Linked DNA regions of Homo sapiens: region 2 is linked to region 1. The links come from fine-mapping of genetic effects on plasma protein levels. A gene starts in region 1. The other region holds a variant in brackets. All regions are shown on one strand. Distances are between the middles of the regions. Region 1 holds the start of CD6 (CD6 molecule). Region 2 holds the start of LOC105369326 (a long non-coding RNA gene).

Evidence for each region. PIP is the chance, under the fine-mapping model, that this variant and not a neighbour inherited with it causes the effect. Protein levels are from antibody-based Olink assays in UK Biobank. Linkage for the fine-mapping came from a reference panel and not from the study's own genotypes, which makes the PIPs less certain.
Region 2: its variant is fine-mapped to the plasma level of the CD6 protein (UK Biobank, PIP above 0.99). The variant lies in the coding sequence of CD6. If it changes the protein, the assay may bind it differently, which can mimic a change of level.

The regions. Positions count from the first base shown.
Region 1 is chr11:60,967,579-60,972,947 of GRCh38, reverse strand. CD6 (CD6 molecule) reads right to left here and starts at 1,268. Exons shown (of 13, transcript NM_006725.5): 1 at 1,034-1,268. The coding sequence starts at 1,082.
Region 2 is chr11:61,004,030-61,009,398 of GRCh38, reverse strand. CD6 (CD6 molecule) reads right to left here. Exons shown (of 13, transcript NM_006725.5): 2 at 2,757-2,825; 3 at 1,489-1,839; 4 at 554-865. LOC105369326 (a long non-coding RNA gene) reads left to right here and starts at 1,288. Exons shown (of 2, transcript XR_950155.3): 1 at 1,288-1,352; 2 at 4,454-5,369. RefSeq lists a silencer at 1,486-1,685 and an enhancer at 1,427-2,135. The variant G/A (reference allele first, on the strand shown) is at 662.

The sequences.
Region 1 (5,369 bases):
AAACTCCAGTTCCCAGAGCCGAATGGCTTTCCCTGAACCAGTATGAGGCCACAGGCTCGGAACACATGCCTGGAGATCAAGGCAGAGAGGAGAGCACTCCCTGCCCAGAGTCTCGCGACATGTACCCAGTCCTCCAAACCAGCTCGATGCCCCCTCCTGACTGGGTCTTCCTGGGTCTCCTCCATCACAAAATGAAAGCACTTGGCTCTCTGGCTGCAAGGTGGACCCAGACTCCCCTGGCCCGAATTCTGTTTCCATACCAGTCTTCCCAAATCCCAAAATGTGAGAGCTCGATGGGGTCAGGATCTCTTGCATCTCCAGGCCCCTGCCCCGCTCTGGCCAGCTTGGACCCTGCACTCAACAGGGGCCAGCAAGTATCTGGGGAGCACAGTCTAGTGCCCCAAACCTTCTGGCCATCTGATTCCCTGGCCCAGGTGGCCAGGTGCCTTGACACTTGGGGGCAGCTTGAGACGTGGGGGTGGCCTTCATGCTCGCTTATGCCCTAGACTACCCCAGCTGGTTGTGCTGAGGCCATCAGCGCCTGGTTGTCCAGAACTCTCCCTGGCTTCCCTGAGTCCTGTTTCGGGAGGTGCTCTCCTGTGATTGGCCTACGCCTGCTGGACCCCAAGCCTCAGCTTTGGCGTTGAAAGTACCACCATCAGTGGTCCTGCCTCTCTGGAAGGTGAACGGTTCCTTCTTAAGAGTTGGCAAGAAATAGGAAATGGGGGAGTTCCTGAGCTTAAGGATGGGAGAGGCACCTCCCTCCTCACACCCTAGGGACCCATTGGTAAGGCACAAAGCATGCTTCCCACATTCTGTCACTCCAGGAGGCTTCCAGGCACAGCCCCAGCCCCTCGAGGGGCTCCTGTGTCCTCTCCTAGCCCCAGATGCTGGACCTCCCTGGTACCTGAGTGTAGTCTTGGCTAAAAGATCCTAGAAAAGTGACCACAAGGAAACAACCAGAAAGGGGACTGAGAGGGCCGGACCCGGCTCCTCCAGCACCAGTGGCAGGAGATGAGGGAAGGGGGCCTACCTGAGAGGGCTGCCGTCAGCAATCCAGTGATCCCGAAGAAGAGCCACATGTCTGGAGCTGTCTCTGGCTGCTACGCGTGGCTGCCTGTGGGAAGCACCATCTTGGGGCCGGGAGGTGGACACGGCCGTTGTGCGCCCCTGGCGCAGGTCTGCTCTACCCTTTGCTGTTCTTGTTCCTGTGTCTCTCTCTGCTCTCTCCTCTCCGACACGCATGCGATCAAACCCAACCTGTGAGTGTCTCACGCCTGCTTGTTCTGCTTGTGGTTTTGGTCTGCAGGAAGCTGGGCTGCTGTTACAGGGGCTGGTGGGGAGAGCCCCAGCTGCCTGTGCTGGGAGCCCACCCATCCAGGCTGCACCCCAAGAGTCACGGAGCCAGACACACGCATGCACACGCATCCATGCAGACACACTTCCCCGAGGGTCTTCTAAGAAGAAGGGAAGTGGAAGAGCCATGCCTCATTTCTGGTGGCCCAGAAGAAAAAATTGATAATGTAGTAGCTGCTCAATCAGTACATATTGGAAGAGGGAGTGAATGACCCATTGCCTGTCCCGGTCCGTGTAATTTGGCTCTCTTGGATTAAATCCTGAGTTTTATCTTAACCTTAGGTGCAATGGTGGTTGGGAAGGAGGGTGTGGTCTTGATGCACTTTTGGAGATAAGAGCCTAAGTCTCCCCTCAGAGAAATATAAATTGGGAAGGGCCTGAGAGATGGCCATCCCACAAGTCCTTCTACAGGGAAGGGTGCCAAGGCCTTGTGGGAGCCGCCCCGTCAGATGGCACAGTGGGGCCAGCTATCCCATCTCCAGGTACCAGACTGGGCATGCCTCCGTGGGAGTCAGGCATGGGAGCTGGGTCTACAAGGCTGAGCAGGATTTTGACAAACAGCAATCATGGGAGGCCTCTGGGCCAGAAGGAATAGCAGGAGCAAAGGGCTGAAGGAAGGAAGCCCAGGGCTGCCTGAGAAACCCCGAGTTGCCCCATTGCACTGCAGCAGACTGACGCTATAGGAAGAAGGCAGGGGCCAAGCGTGTTTAATTCCCATGGTACTCCCTGTGGAGCATATGGTAGGAGGTGAATAAATGTTTATTGAATGAGAAAAGGAATAGATAATTTGGTTGTCCAAGCAGGGCCCTGGAAGTGGTCAAATCCAGAAGGGGTTTGGTTCCAAATCCTGGCCCTGCCTCAATTGGTCCCATCCCAGGTCCACCTCTCCTGGCCCTCCACTTCCTGCATCCTTGCTTGTCTTCATTTCCCCAACATGTGGAATGAGGAGCGGTCCTCCTCCATTGGGTTCGGTCCTAAATGTGGGTGTATGCATTTGATGCGGCAAGTATTAGAGCCACGGGGAACCAGGCGCCCCCAGAGTGAGACTCCTCCCAGTCCTGCCCCAGCGCCGGCACCTGCTGCCGCTGCCCTCTGGTGGAAGTCACTGGCAGCACAGGTTTGCATGGGTGCCTCGAGCTCCCAGATGCAATTCCATTCATTTACACAGTCTTGGTGTGCAGAACTCTGGACAGGACTCTGTGGAAGTGAAAGAGAGGAAACCATATTCCTGCCCTCAAGGAGGATGAAGTTCACACACACACAAGTGACCAAACCACAGGCCAAGGTAGGACACACATAATGTGAGGTCTCCTGGTCCTAAGAGGAACCCGTTTGAAATGGGCCGGGAAGGATGGCTAGACTCCATTTCTGACAATATGGTAGACAGCAGATGCTGAAGAATTCTCCTAATACAAAACACCACAAAAATATTGTAAACCATCTTTTAAAATGTGTAGCTGAGGTGGTGAGAAATGAAGAAAATCATCAGAGATCAAAAACGACAATAAGCCTGGGCAACATGGTGAAACCCTCTCTCTGCAAAAGGTGCAAAAAATTAGCCAGGTTTGGTGGCACACACCTGCGGTCTCAGCTACTCAGGAGGCTGAGGTGGGAGGATCGCTTGAGCCCAGGAGGTCAAGGCTTTAATAAGCCAAGATTGCACTGCTGTACTCCAGCCTGGGCAACAGAGTGAGACCTTGTATATGTTAATATATAAAGACAACAAAAATCCAAAGAGATCACAGCCAGCAGAGAAGTATCTGTTGATCCAGTTGACCAAGAGCTTCAGTCTTATGAACATGGACAAAAGTTAAAGCTGAGAAACAAAATCGAAGTGAAAAACAAAATCCAAAATTTCTGCCTTAAACAAAGAGCACTGAAATACAACATCCACAGTGGAGAACTCGGAGAGAAAAATTCCTTAAAGCGAGCTGACACAGAGCTTGCCCAACTCAGTATGGACTCTGAGTGGGAGAAAAATAAATGTCAACCCTGAATGCCCCTCACCACAAGTCTACCCACTAATAGGCCTGGAGGTGAAACTCATGGTGACTTTGTGGCAAAAACAACCACACAAAAAACAAACAAACAAAAAGATAAGATAAGAATTTAAAGTAAGGTAAATAATAGCTCCTTAGGCACGTGGCAGAAACAAATGATAAAAATTGTCTCTGGAGTAACTCATCCTATATTCATGACTCAAAGAAATCCCACAGAAAAACTCCCATGGAACATGAGTTCACATGTTTGTAAAACAGAAAAATCATAAAACACAGGACACAAGGTGCTTTAGGTGAGAGGAGCACCAAGCAATAAACTAAAAATGCAGACCTTCGAACACATCTCAGATGTTGGAATTGCAGTATATATAATATAAAATAAGGATGTTTCATATGCTTCAAGAATTAAAAGTTGGTAATTGAAAGTATAGATAAGGAACAAGAGACTATTTAAAGTGACCAGGAAGATTGAGGGAAAAAAAGCAAGCAGTTATGTAAAAACATAATTTTTGAAAATAGAAGCCCAGTGTACAGATTAAACAGTAGATTAAGGCTCAGCACTTTGGGAAGCTAAGGCAGTCTGATGGCTTGAGGCCAGGAGTTCAAGACTAGCCTGGCTAACACAGTGAAACCCTGTCTCTATTAAAAATACAAAAATTAGCCAGGTGAGGTGGCACATGCCTGTAGTCCCAGCTACTCAGGAGGCTGTAGCACAAGAATTGCTTGAACCCAGGAGGCAGAGATTGCAGTGAGTCGAGATTGTGCCACTGCACTCCGGCCTGGGTGAGAGTGAGACTCTGTCTCAAAAATAAATAAATAAATACATACATAAAAATAAACAGCAGATTAATATGGCTGAAGAGACAACTACTGGGGTGAACAATAGATTTGAAGAATTTACCCAGGATGGAGCACAGGAGGACAAAGTGGTGGAAAATATGAAAGAGGCTAAGAGACATAGACAAGGAACAAGGATTTAAATATGTCTAATTAGAGTTCTAGAAGAAAATGGAAAATTTCTAGACTTGATGAAAGACACAATCCTCAGATTCTGGAAGCTCCCCCAACCCAAGCATGATAAATAAAAAGAAATCTACACCAAACATTTTTGGTAGCAAAACTGCTGATCACTAGACAGAAGATGGATGAATGATGAAGTAGATGGGCAGCTAATATGTCAATACCAATAACTAAAGCCAGAAGGCGATGGAACAACATCTCAAAGTACTAATAAAAAAATAACTGTCAACCTTGACTATCTTTCAAGTATAAGGTTTAAAAGACACATTTTCAGATGAAAATTGAGAGCATTTATAGCTAACAGACTCTCACCTAAGGGAATTCTAAAGGATGTTCTTCAAAAACAAGAAAAATAATCTCAGAAAAAAAAGTCTAAGATTCAAGTAAGAATGGTGAGCAAAGAAATATGTAAACACAGAAGTGGATTTAATAAGCACTGATAGCATAAAATAATTACAAAAATGTCCACTTTGTGGAGTTAGAAAAAAATGAAATAGGCTGGACATGGTGGCTCATGCCTGTAATCCCAGCACTTTGGGAGGCTGAGGTGGTTGGATCACTTGAGGTCATGAGTTTGAGAACAGCTTGGCCAAAACGGCTAAACCCCATCTCTACTAAAAATACAAAAATTAGCCAGGCGTGGTGGCTCGCATCTGTAGTCCCAGCTATGCAGGAGGCTGAGGCAGGAGAATCACTTGAAACTGGGAGGTGGAGGTTGCAGCGAGCCAAGACTGCACCACTGCACTCCAGCCTGGGCGACAGAGCGAGACTCTGTCTCAAAAAAAAAAAGAAAAAAAAATTAAAAAAGAAAAAAAAAATGAGATAAAACTAAAGAACCATAAAACAATAACAAATTGGTGAGGAGTGATCAGAGTGGGAAAGGTCTATTATTTGGTGGGAGGGCAAAATATTGACTAGCATTTGACCTTGTTCAATTAAACATGCATGTTAAACTAGTTGAACAATAAAATGGAACTTGTTGGGGAGAGAAGC
Region 2 (5,369 bases), 36 kb before region 1:
CCTGCTGTGATAAGTGTGGTCTGTGGAGCAGCAGCATCGGCATTGCCTGGGATCTTGTTAGAAACGCAGACTCTGGAGCTCTGCCTCAGACCTACTGAATCAGAATCTACATTTTAACACCCCCACCTCCCCCATCTCCTGCTTATCAAAGAGAGGCACTGGCTGGTCCAGAACCTTCTGGCCCCACCTGGACAGACCAACAGCCTCCTCAGAGGCCTCCCTCCCTTCAGTCTCCCCTTGCTGCTTGAATGCAGGTGGCCAACTCCCACTCGGGAAGAGTCTCACTTTTAATGTCACCTCTTCCGGGAGGTGGTCAGCCTTAGCCTACAGCTCCGCATGGTCTGCTGCCTCTAGACTCCACCTGACTGCCTTTCTTGGGGGCATTTACCACTTTCTCTCCTGAATTATGTTTGTCTCAGTCTCATCTCCCCTCCTGAACTGTGACATCTCAAGGGCAGGGACCACCTCTCCGGCACTAACTCCAGGCTTGGCGCCCAGTAGGCCTATGGTGAGTGTTGGTAGTGACCGGGCTTCAGTGACTCCGCCCACTGACCTGAGCACACCGCGCCCGCGTCCTCTTTGTGGCCGCAGTAGTGCTGTCCTGGCAGCCCCGGGCAGTCCCACAGGTAAGCTTCGGCCCCCGAGCAGTTCACCTGGTCCC[G/A]GTGGATAGGCCCGCGGCCGGGCGTGAAGTGCAAGCCGGGCAGGGCCTGGACTGCCCAGCCGCAGCCCAGTTGCCTGCACACCACGTGGGCGTCCTCCAGGTCCCAAGTGTCATCGCACACTGATCCCCACTCGCCATGCTCCAGCATCTCCACGCGGCCGGCGCAGGCGCCGCCACCGTCCACCAGGCGCAGCGCGCGGTTCTCTAGGGGTGGGAGGGGGTTGTGGATGCTGGGGCACCCGACCAGGAAGGGAGGGTTGGGGTGATGGTTGGACTGGCCGGAGAGTTGTGAGCGTGTTGTGGACCCAGTGAGAGGGCTGTAGCCCGGTAGGCAAGACTGGGAATCCCCCCAGGACTGCAGATGGGTTAGGTAGAGCCGCAGGCTGGTGGGAGGGACCAGAGACCTGGTGGGCGGGGCCTGGAGGGCAGGTTTGGGAGCCTGGGAGCCACAGCGCTTAGGGACCCTGTGAACCTGGCATGTTTATGTATATGGCGAAAGGGGAGGAGAGACCCAGAGCGGGCGGGGACAGGGAAGCGGCGGGCCCAGTAAGTGGGGTTAGAGACCGGGTTAGCTTTGGGAACCCAGGGGTGGGACTAGGAACCAAGTGTGGGGGTGGAGTCTGGAGGCCAGATCCAAGGAAACGCTCAGATCTGGAAATGACTCGAGGTCGTCCTCCGGTGTGGGAACCCGGTGCGTTTGCACTGGTAGGCGGTGGGGGTGGAGGTCTGGAGGGCGAGGCTTGCGTCCAGGGTCTGGAGCCAGGGGCAGTGGCTGAAGGCCTGGGGAGTGGGGCAGGTGGGGGCCCGTGTAGGGGGTGCGCTCGTACCTGCACAGGTGACACGGGCCCGCCTCCCGTCGCTGCGGCACGCGTGCTCCACCACCTCGCAGAGCCGCCACTCGGCGCCGCTGCACAGGAGGGCGGGCGCCCCGGCCAGAGTGGCATTAGCTGCTACGCTGGTGTTCCCGGCTGCAGGCGGGGGCGGCAGCTCAGGGGTCGGCGGGGCGAGCTGAGAGGCGGCCTCCGCCCCGCCGCAGCCCAGTGCTCGGCACACGGCCTCGGCGGCGCGGCTGTCCCAGAGCGCCCCGCACGCGGGCTCCCAGGACGCCTCGAGCCGCACCTCCACCGTCCCGCTGCAGCTGCTGCTCCCGTTTGTCAGACGGACCGGAAGCCGCTCCCCTGGAAGTGTCAGACCAGAGAGCTGAGACCGGTGGGGCCTGGGCAGAGGGTTGCCCAGGCTCTGCCACTGACTCTGTGCGTGAACTTTGACAACGCCCTGCCTGGCTAGGGGTCTCAGCTTTCCAGTCTGCAAAATGGAGCCGGGCTGGCTCATCCCTGAGCCCACCTTGAGGCCTGACCCTGTGGTTCTCCTTAGAGTCAGCCGAAGGTGGGGCTTGGGAGTGACTCTAGAGGTTAAGATGGGTGACAGACAACTAGGGGTCCAGCCCCCTAGAAACCCTCCTCACTTGCTCCTGTCTCCAGGGGCACCCGTTTGTGAAAGAAAGGCAGAGTTGTGAGTTCAGGGGCCCTGGTCCAGTGGGCGCATGCTTCCCCTGAAGGCCCCTCTGCTCCTCTGAGGGTACTGTCCTAGAGGCTGTCACAGTGACTAGGGAACCTTGGAGGATTGTGAAGCGGCTGGCCATGGGGTTGATGATGGGCTGCTTCAGCTGATGGTGGTCCTCACTTCCCCAGAACCCCTTCTATGGGAACCACCTGCCCCTTTTAGCCCAGGATTGTACCCCCAGTGCTAGCATGCATCTTTGCATACAGTAGGTCCTTAATAAACGTCTGCTGAGTAAATCAAGGACCCTGCCTCCCCCACCAAGAACTCTAGCCTGTTCTCAACAAATCCCCTTAAAATGCTCCAGGCATACCTGCCCACCTGTATGTGACTTATCAGTGTCCTCTCAAAAATGGTAGTTCTACGACCTCAAAGTGAATTGATAGTGGAACTTCAGGTGATGGGTCAGGAAGAAGTGTTGTCTGAAGTCAGGGAGCCTCCCTGGTATCCTAAATGTCCATTTCCCTTCTTTATTACCCTGGGGGACCACCTACAGAAAGCTGATCATGGACCCCCAGAGGGAATGTTTGCTCACCTGGCTCCCAGAGCTCACTCTCTGCACTGCTGGTGTTGAGCTGGTCAGGTGGGGCTGGAGATGGATGACCTGAAATGAACCAGCAGCAGCATGGTGGGTGAGTGAGCTCAGGCCTGGAGACCACAGAGACACCCTGATGAGCAGGGGGCACTTCCTGGAGCCTGTGGTGGCTACATGAGGCCTTTGGAAAAGACGTGGTCCTCAACTTTGGGTGCATTGGCCTCCCTTCAAGGTAGGGAAAGTTCTCAAACATTGGCATTTCAGGATCCTCCGCTTTACCTATTCATTGCACACACAGCTTCAGAAATCGGAGTAGAACAGGGAGGAAAGGCAGTGGGCACTGGGGCCAGACACACAAAGTGGCTTCGTGACCATGAATGGGTGACTTAATCTTTCTGTGCCAGTCCCAATTTTTCAGCTATGATTCTTAGGAAAATATTGTGAGACTGAAATGAGACAGCCTATGAAATACTTGACATATAGAAAAAGCTCGAAAGTGGGAGTGATTTAGAAAAAGAAAATTTTGTTTATAGAATTTGTTTGAGAATTTCATATCAGACTTTAGAATAATTGACACATCCTGGACTGGGAACCACTGGATTGCAAAGTGCCTTCAGACACTAAGAAACTAGCATTCATGAAGGACAGGTATTTGCATATTTGCATATATTGTTCCATTTACTTTCTTTCTTTCTTTCTTTTTTTTTTTTTGAGACAGAGTTTCGCTCTTGTTGCCCAGGCTGGAGTGCAATGGCTTGATCTCGGCTCACCGCAACCTCCACCTCCCAGATTCAAGCGATTCTCCTGTCTCAGCCTCCTGAGTAGCTGGGATTACAGGCATGCGCCACCACGCCTGGCTAATTTTGTATTTTTAGTAGAGACGGGGTTTCTCCATGTTGGTCAGGCTGGTCTCGAACTCCTGACCTCAGGTGATCTGCCTGCCTCAGCCTCCCAAAGTGCCGGGATTACAGGCATGAGCCACTACATCCAGCCTATTCCATTTACTTTCAACAATGCAATGAGGCAGGTGTTAGCATTCTTATTTTACAGATTAGGAAAAGGAGGCTCCAAAAGCAAAAATCAGTTGTCCCTGCCAGATAGGGTCCATTTATTCCACCAGAGCTACTATCCATTCTGCCCTGGGAGGCTGATCTGTTTGGATTAACCCCTGTCTTCCTGGGCCTTATGGCTTCTGTCAGATTCAGCCAATGGGGAGCCTTAGCAGAGCTAGGCAGAAGTGAGGAGAGCGAAGATGTGACACTTATTCCTCTGGCCCCCCCTGTGAGGTCCCTCGGGTAGGCTGTGTCCCTCATGTGAAGGACATTGCTTATTCAAGGTGACCTCTCCTTGACTGTCTCCTACTCGGACTCACTGACCACTCCCTGGTTGTGTCTCCTTTGGCCAGAAGTTGCTCTTAGATTCTACTTACTGCATTACCCTTTGTAAATAGTTCTTCTGTAAATAAGTCCCCTTTAAATTCCTATTCTAGGTTTCCTGGTGGGAACCCAACTGATGCGTGGGCCTGAGGCCACCCAGTGAGCAAGCTGCAGAGCCCGGATTTAAACTGTCTCCAAGGACTTGCCTCCCCTCTGGGCTGGGATGTTTGGGCTTGCAAAGCACAAAGGGAGGCTCTGGGGCAGGGACTGTTGTGGTTGCCTATGAACTCCTCTGCATTTCCTGGTTTCTCTTGCACTTAGGTTGGGCTGGTTGAAGCCTAGGCAGAAGACGTCTGCCTGCTTTTGAGCCAAAGCAGGGAAGAGGCAGTGAGCCATTTCCATTTACGTCTTCCCTGTTGAAGGATATTAGAGGCCCTGGGTTGCGGAGGAACTGCAAGAGGGAAGGGGATGTTGACCCAGCTTGGATTTTGTGTGAGTAAGGAGTAAGCCCTTATCATGTTAAACCATGAAGATTTGGGGGTGTCCTTGTTGCTACAGCCTTGCCTAGTCCGGCCTGACCGATACAGAGCCTGAAGACTCGGACATGACCACTACACATTCCTGGAGCTTCACCTGAGCAGATTCCACGGACATACCCCCTGAGCCTGAGCTTGTGCATGTGCGCGTGCACACCCTGGCAGACAGCCCTCTCCAGGAAACCGTGTGGGCCTCTTCATCATCAGGCAGAAAGTCTTCAGCCCTCTAATTGCCGTCCTCGCTAACTCCCTGGCTGGCTGCCCAGCCTGAGCCCCTGGAGGAGAAATGACTCCAAATTCAGAGCATAAACTCTGTGGCTGATGTATTAGAATGTTCAGCGCAAGAATTCAGATGCCCACAAGTTAGGATTTCAGAATCCCGGTTCCCACAGCAACCGTCCCAGTGCTCCTGCGTAGTTTTCAATGTTACTACATGGGGTGGGGGAGGGGGATTGAATGATGGCTGCAGTGTGTATGACTGTGAGGTGTGTGCATATGAGTGTGTGTGAGGGACTGTGTGCATATGTGATTACGACTGTGTGTGTGAATGTGATGTGTGTGGGGCAGGGGGGCTTTAGCTCTGCTCTGTATCATCTCTCTCTCTGGGTCTGGAAAACCACTTTCTCATGCATAAAGACAAAAATGTGTTCTCCTAGATCAGAAAACCCTAGAGGGCAGGGCCCATGGCTGGGTCAGCCCTG